Regions from separate parts of the Homo sapiens genome. Here region 1 is linked to region 2. The links come from fine-mapping of genetic effects on gene expression. A gene starts in region 2. The other region holds a variant in brackets. All regions are shown on one strand. Distances are between the middles of the regions.

The links. PIP is the estimated chance that this variant, and not a neighbour inherited with it, causes the effect.
Region 1: its variant is fine-mapped to the expression of AHSA1 in monocytes after LPS (Fairfax 2014, PIP 0.95).

Annotation. Positions count from the first base shown.
Region 1 is chr14:77,434,062-77,436,973 of GRCh38, forward strand. It overlaps VIPAS39 (VPS33B interacting protein, apical-basolateral polarity regulator, spe-39 homolog), which reads right to left. Exons shown (of 20, transcript NM_001193315.2): 13 at 1,783-1,858; 14 at 1,198-1,332; 15 at 201-242. Among named protein-coding and RNA genes, the nearest start is that of NOXRED1, 12 kb to the left of the region's middle. The variant G/GA (reference allele first, on the strand shown) is at 1,354.
Region 2 is chr14:77,456,553-77,459,464 of GRCh38, forward strand. It overlaps AHSA1 (activator of HSP90 ATPase activity 1), which reads left to right and starts at 1,541. Exons shown (of 9, transcript NM_012111.3): 1 at 1,541-1,717. The coding sequence starts at 1,638. It overlaps VIPAS39 (VPS33B interacting protein, apical-basolateral polarity regulator, spe-39 homolog), which reads right to left and starts at 1,049. Exons shown (of 20, transcript NM_001193315.2): 1 at 943-1,049. RefSeq lists enhancers at 847-1,369, 988-1,447, 1,370-1,892, 1,618-1,797.

The DNA.
Region 1 (2,912 bases), 22 kb before region 2:
TCTCAGTTCAAGAACTTCTTAATTCCCAAGCCCCAGCACTGCTATAGGCCATTCAGTCTTCTCTCACTTTCCCAAACTCATTCCTTTCCACCTTTAACCTTGAATATCAAAGGACACACTGTACAGGGTTACAAAGCAACATCCACTCCATGTAGTTACCCTGATCACTAGTTTCATAACACTGACCAATTTGTATCTACCTTAAATGTCTTCTTCAGGTTGACGGGACTGCTGAATGTCCCCTAGGATGAAAGTGAAAAAGGAACTTTAGTGATATTGACTTTCCCAAGTACCACCCAAGCTCTCATTTTCTTTCCCACTACAGAGACTTTCTACATCTTACTCTGCTGCCATTTAAACATAGAAATTAATTTCAGGGAAAAGCTCCATTGGGAATAGTCAGATACCACTATAAGCTGGCTTATCAAGAACTGGAGTAATAAGTATGGTGCCTTTTCCCATTTTCTGCTAATCCAAATAAGGAGAAAATGTCTGCCTGTTATCATGGAATCCATACTTCTTTGAAAAATTTAGAAAGAAAAAAAGAGTAGCCAGGCGCGGTGGCTCTCACCTATAATCCCAGCACTTTGGGAGGCTGAGGCAGGTGGATCACGAGGTCAGGAGTTCAACACCAGCCTGGCCAACATGGTGAAACCCTGTCTCTACTAAAAATACAAAAAAAAAAAAATTAGCGGGGAGTGGTGGCGCACACCTGTGATCCCAGCTACTCAGGAGGCTGAGGCAGGAGAATTGCTTGAACCCAGGAGGCGGAGGTTACAGTGAGCCAAGATCGCACCACTGCACTCCAGCCTGGGCGACAGAGCAAGACTCCATCTCAGAGAAAAAAAAAAAAAAAGTATCCATAGCTACTTGCCACCCTACTGCTTTTCTCCACATCATGCTAATCCATTTGATATTGTGGACCTTTGAACAGAGACTTCTACAGGTAACAGCACCAGGGACAGAACTTGCTATGCTAGCATGCCAGCTCACTTGAAGCTACAAACCTTACAAACCTCTTTTCCCTCCTGGCCAGATGAGGCCCTCTTACCCCTGGTGAGGGCCAGGAAAGCTTCCAGGTGGATTTCTGAGAACTATACATACCCATTATTAATAGAGTACATAAAAGTACTGGATTTGAACTATCTTCTTTTTGTGCAATGAGAGTTTGTGGAATCTTCCATATTTTGCCTGTACCTCAGCCTCTGTGTAGTGATAGAAGCAGGAGTAGAAAAGTGTTGTCACTAGTGGCATGTTGAGGATGGAGGCTTTGCGGGGGTGCTTTCGGAAGATCTCAGTCTGTCCTGCTGATTCTAGATGGCGATCATTTGCCTGTGGTGGAGTGAGCCAAGT[G/GA]AAAAAAAAAAAAAACAATGTCCATGGAGTAGAGGCAGGAGAAAAATCTTTTAATACTACAGCAGTTGTGTTTCCCACCCTAGGAGAGAAACAAAGAACAGAAAAAGAAAGAAATTGCCTAGGATATCCCCAGAGTAGTTTAAAATCCATCAAATGATCATGAATCCACATTGGATGGAAACAAATAGAAGTGGGGAGGACATGGGAGATTCGGGATGAAGAAGAAATACTTCCAGGTTAACAGCTGGTAAGAGGAAAAAGGATCCTAAAAACAATGGAGGAAGGGGGCTATTGTGTACAGGCAGAAAATGAAAGGCTTTTAGAAACCAGTAAGAAATGACCCACGTGCAGAGCATAGAAATCTCCTAGATGCTGAACGGCACTGAGCCTTGGCACTGAAGCAAAAGATATAGAGATGAAGAGTCTAACCTCAATAATGATCTGACGTTCCAGGAGCGTGTAATGGTCCTGTATGTGTGCGGAATCTTCTGCTGAAAATGGCAAACTGGTAGAGTGCCAGAAGGTTAGTACCTTTCTCTATTCAAACAAGGAAACAAACCCAACTAAACCAAATCGCCAGCATAAGTATAAGAGGCTCACGGTGCCTCACAAGTCTGATCTCAGTTCACCTTTAGAGCGTCCCTTAAAGAAAGACATCGCATGAATGGCGTGAATTTCATATTAAAGGTTTTGCCAATTCAAGAGGGATCCTGAGAGTCCACAAAATACTTATAGTCACTCATAATTTTGCTGATAAATGAATTAGAATCCTCTCATTTTGAGAGTTGGAATATTTGGTGAATGAGTCACAAAGCTAATGAGTGAGCCTAGGCAACTGCCCATCATCCACATCCCAGTGAAATTCTGTGGCTTGTGCTTAACTTACTGAGGGGACACCTAGATTTGTTAGCCATTTTTTTATGGCAGAGTACAAAAGGTAAATTAAATTACATGCCATGGTGGTATGTTTATAGATCAGCAAATATCACAAATGTCAAGGGTCCCATCTTCAACACTGCATTATGTTTTTTGTTTGTCTGCTTGTTTTGAGATGGAGTTTCTCTGTGTCACCCAGGCTGGAGTGCAGTGGCATGATCTTGGCTCACTACAACCTCCACCTCCTGAGTTCAAGCAATTCTCCTGCCTCAGCCTCCAGAGTAGCTGGGACTACAGGCGTATGCTGCCACGCCCAGCTTATTTTTGTATTTTTAGTAGAGACAGGGTTTCACCATGTTCGCCAGGACGGTCTTGATCTCCTAACCTCGTGATCCACCTGCCTCAACCTCCCAAGGCGCTGGGATTACAGGCGTGAGCTGCTGCGCCCGGCCACATTATTGTTATACATGAAGATGCTGAGGGACAGCGTCTTGCCAAAAAGTCATGTGGTCAATGGGGAAGGCCAAGAATAGAAGCCAGATTTTAAATGCCCAGTTCACAGATATATCTTTTAGAAAGTGCTGCATTATTCCCCATACTCTGCTCACTCCAGGAAGAATTCTGAGTTTTAATTACACTATTCCAGATAAGTTTTAGCCATAGTGAATTTTTAGAAGAGATAA
Region 2 (2,912 bases):
AAAGCCACTTTGTTAAATGCTCCTATTTCAAATTACAATCCAGGCTTTCTGGCTCCTAGACCATTTCTAGTGTCTTGCATGGTCCTTCTACCTATTTTTCACTTTCCAGAAAACTAGAGATCATTCCTTCACTATAGTAATTATCTACAGATAGACATAGAATGTGTCTAACAAACACAATAATCTACCAGAGGATTTCTGGAATCTTTTTAACCATGCAATGGCAGTAGACAACTGCCATCAATTTGTATTTATAACGCCAAATGAGAAGCTAGGTTTACTTGGCAAGTATAGATAATGATCTAGTGGCTCTAGAGTTATAAAGTAATCAGGTACGATTGTCACTCTTAAGAGTGACAGGTGCTTCAACATGATTTAAAATACTTCAGAGGTTTGTCTTTATCGTCTCTTGTTTACTGACAGCCCACAAGGCAGGGTGAGAGACCTCAGGGGAGAACAGGAACTTTACAAAGGAAAACAGAAGAATCAGCAAGAAAACCACAACATGCTCCCTGCCTCAGAAAACTCCAAAAACCACCTACTGAGAAGTCAGACTTGGTTTCAATTATCTTCCGAGCCAGGAAGATACAGGTGAGGCTTGTGAACTGAGACCAGGGAACAAGAGTTAAGCTAGGATGACTCTACGGGTGAACGTCCAGGAAGCCATGGATCTACCGCAGTCGTCAGAGCCCAGCGGATCCCTGGCAGAGTTAAATGCTCGTTCTGAACCAAATGTCCGCTTCCGAACCAATCGCTGGTGCTCACTCGCAGCCCCAGTCCCAAGCGTACTCCAGCGCCCAAGGGTCGCCCTGACTGAAAGAAGAGAATCAGGCCTGTAGTCATAGGGTGTAGGGATGCCTCCTAGAAGAGGGGAAAAGATCAAGATGCGGAGAGGCTGGATCCAGCCAGATACGCGACCCAAGGGGCTTGGGACACCCTCACCTCTTCCGCACAGAGCCCTCCCTCTCAGGACAGCGCCAGCCTCCGCCGCCGCTGGACCAGCCCTTCTATTCAGGCTGTGCAGCTTAGAGAAGGGGGCGGAAGGGAATAATCGTAGGGCGGAGAGAAAACACGAATAACGAGACCGCAGGGCATGCTGGAAGTCGTAGTTTCTTCTGCCTCTGCTGTCAGGCGCTGTCCCGACGAACCACAAGGCTTCTTGACTACAGCCCCCAGAAACCCCAAGCACCGTGCTAGGTCATTTCCTCTCCTTTCCGCGAGACCTTCCGCGGTTATCCAGCGAGTCACGTAGCAAGACTACAATTCCCATGAGGCTCAGCAAGGGCGATTTAGGGTCCAGGGAAGCAATGAGACGTGTTCTTTGTTTTCCTATGGGTGAGGAATGGTTGTATGAGCAGTTGGGTTTCGGGACGCTTTTTGGGGAGAACCCGATGGAGTCTGAAGGATCTCTAAATCAGGCGGAACCCACGGTGCGGCGAGTTGGGACGGAAGTAACCGGTGGGAGTGGGGAGGAGCCGGAAGTTAAGGAGGGGAGGGGGTGGAGGGAAAAGCAAGCCAGGAGGTGCTTGCGGCCGCTTCTAGTAGTTTCCAGGCGCTGCCGGGCGGCTGGCACTAAGCGGTCCTGAGGCTGTGGCTACGGCTGCTCCGGAGCTGGTGGCGCCGCGATAGGAGAGCCGATGGCCAAGTGGGGTGAGGGAGACCCACGCTGGATCGTGGAGGAGCGGGCGGACGCCACCAACGTCAACAACTGGCACTGGTGAGGGCCAGAAAAGCAGGCCGGCCTTGGGAGACCTGCGGCCGGGCCAGGGTTTCAGGGTTCCTAGAACCTCGGCCCGGACAGAGCTGGGGCTGAGGTAGCCCTGTCCGGAGATGGGGGTGGGTCCTTCCTGTGGCAGGGGTCCGTAGCCCCAGGCCTCTCCACTCCGCGGTCACCTTCTCAGTGTTTGAGGGGAGGGAGATGGACGTGGAGGGCTGCGCCCCAGAGGAGGGTTGTCAGAGAGACTAGGAGATAACGCCCTGGCTGCTGCATCCAGCCCGAGCAGGGAGGTGCTTATTACACGTGGCCAGAGGAGTCACTGAGACTGGAACCTCCTTTGATTGTGTTGGGAGATAGCTGTGAAAGGCCTAAGGCCAGGGGTCTGTAATTCCTATTTTGCGGCCTGCGGTAAAATTAAAAGTCATTCATAGGGGACCGCTGCAGCGGTCCCGCGGGAGATTGAGAACGTGTTGTGCAGGTGCTCAGAGCTCAGATAGCTGCGGCCTCTCACCCGGAACTATCAGGTCGGGTGTGTTGGAACTCCAGGTTGCCGAGCAGCCGTGGTTTTATAACCTGACCGTTCTTAAAATAACTGCCCTCCTTCATGAAATCTTCCCAAAGTAATATTAGTTTCCTTATTTTTGAATTCCACTGAACTTTTTTCGTAATGTTTGTATTGTACCGTTACTTTGTTGCAGCCTTTTTTGCTGTTGTTTTCTCTAATAGTTGATAAGTAGGAAGGCAGATAGTGATGTTTCTTTTCCATATCTCACTTTGTATTCTCTCTTCTTAACATGCAGAGTACTTGACCTAATTTTTGTTGTTTGTTTTGAAGCCCTGGACTTAACGTTTTTGTGGCCATCTAGGGGACAGTGAATGTGTAGGAAGTTTATAATGCAAGTGCGAATCTGATAGGTCAGAACACCGTGCCAATGAGGTCAGGGTTATTGGTTTAATCCTTTCTGGGCCTTTTAGCTAAGTACTATTCTTTCATGGTCCAGTCTGTGTTCCTGATCTCAGCAATATGTGCAGTTTTCCACTTGGTCAAATGGGGGCGCCATGTTAAAGTATCAAGTATTCCCCCGCACCATCATGCCGAGAAAGGAGAGCATAATTTTCCATTGAGTTTATACCATTTTCTACAGCAGCTGTCTTTGTTGACAGTGTGCAACCCCTTGTCTTCCTAAAAAAGAAT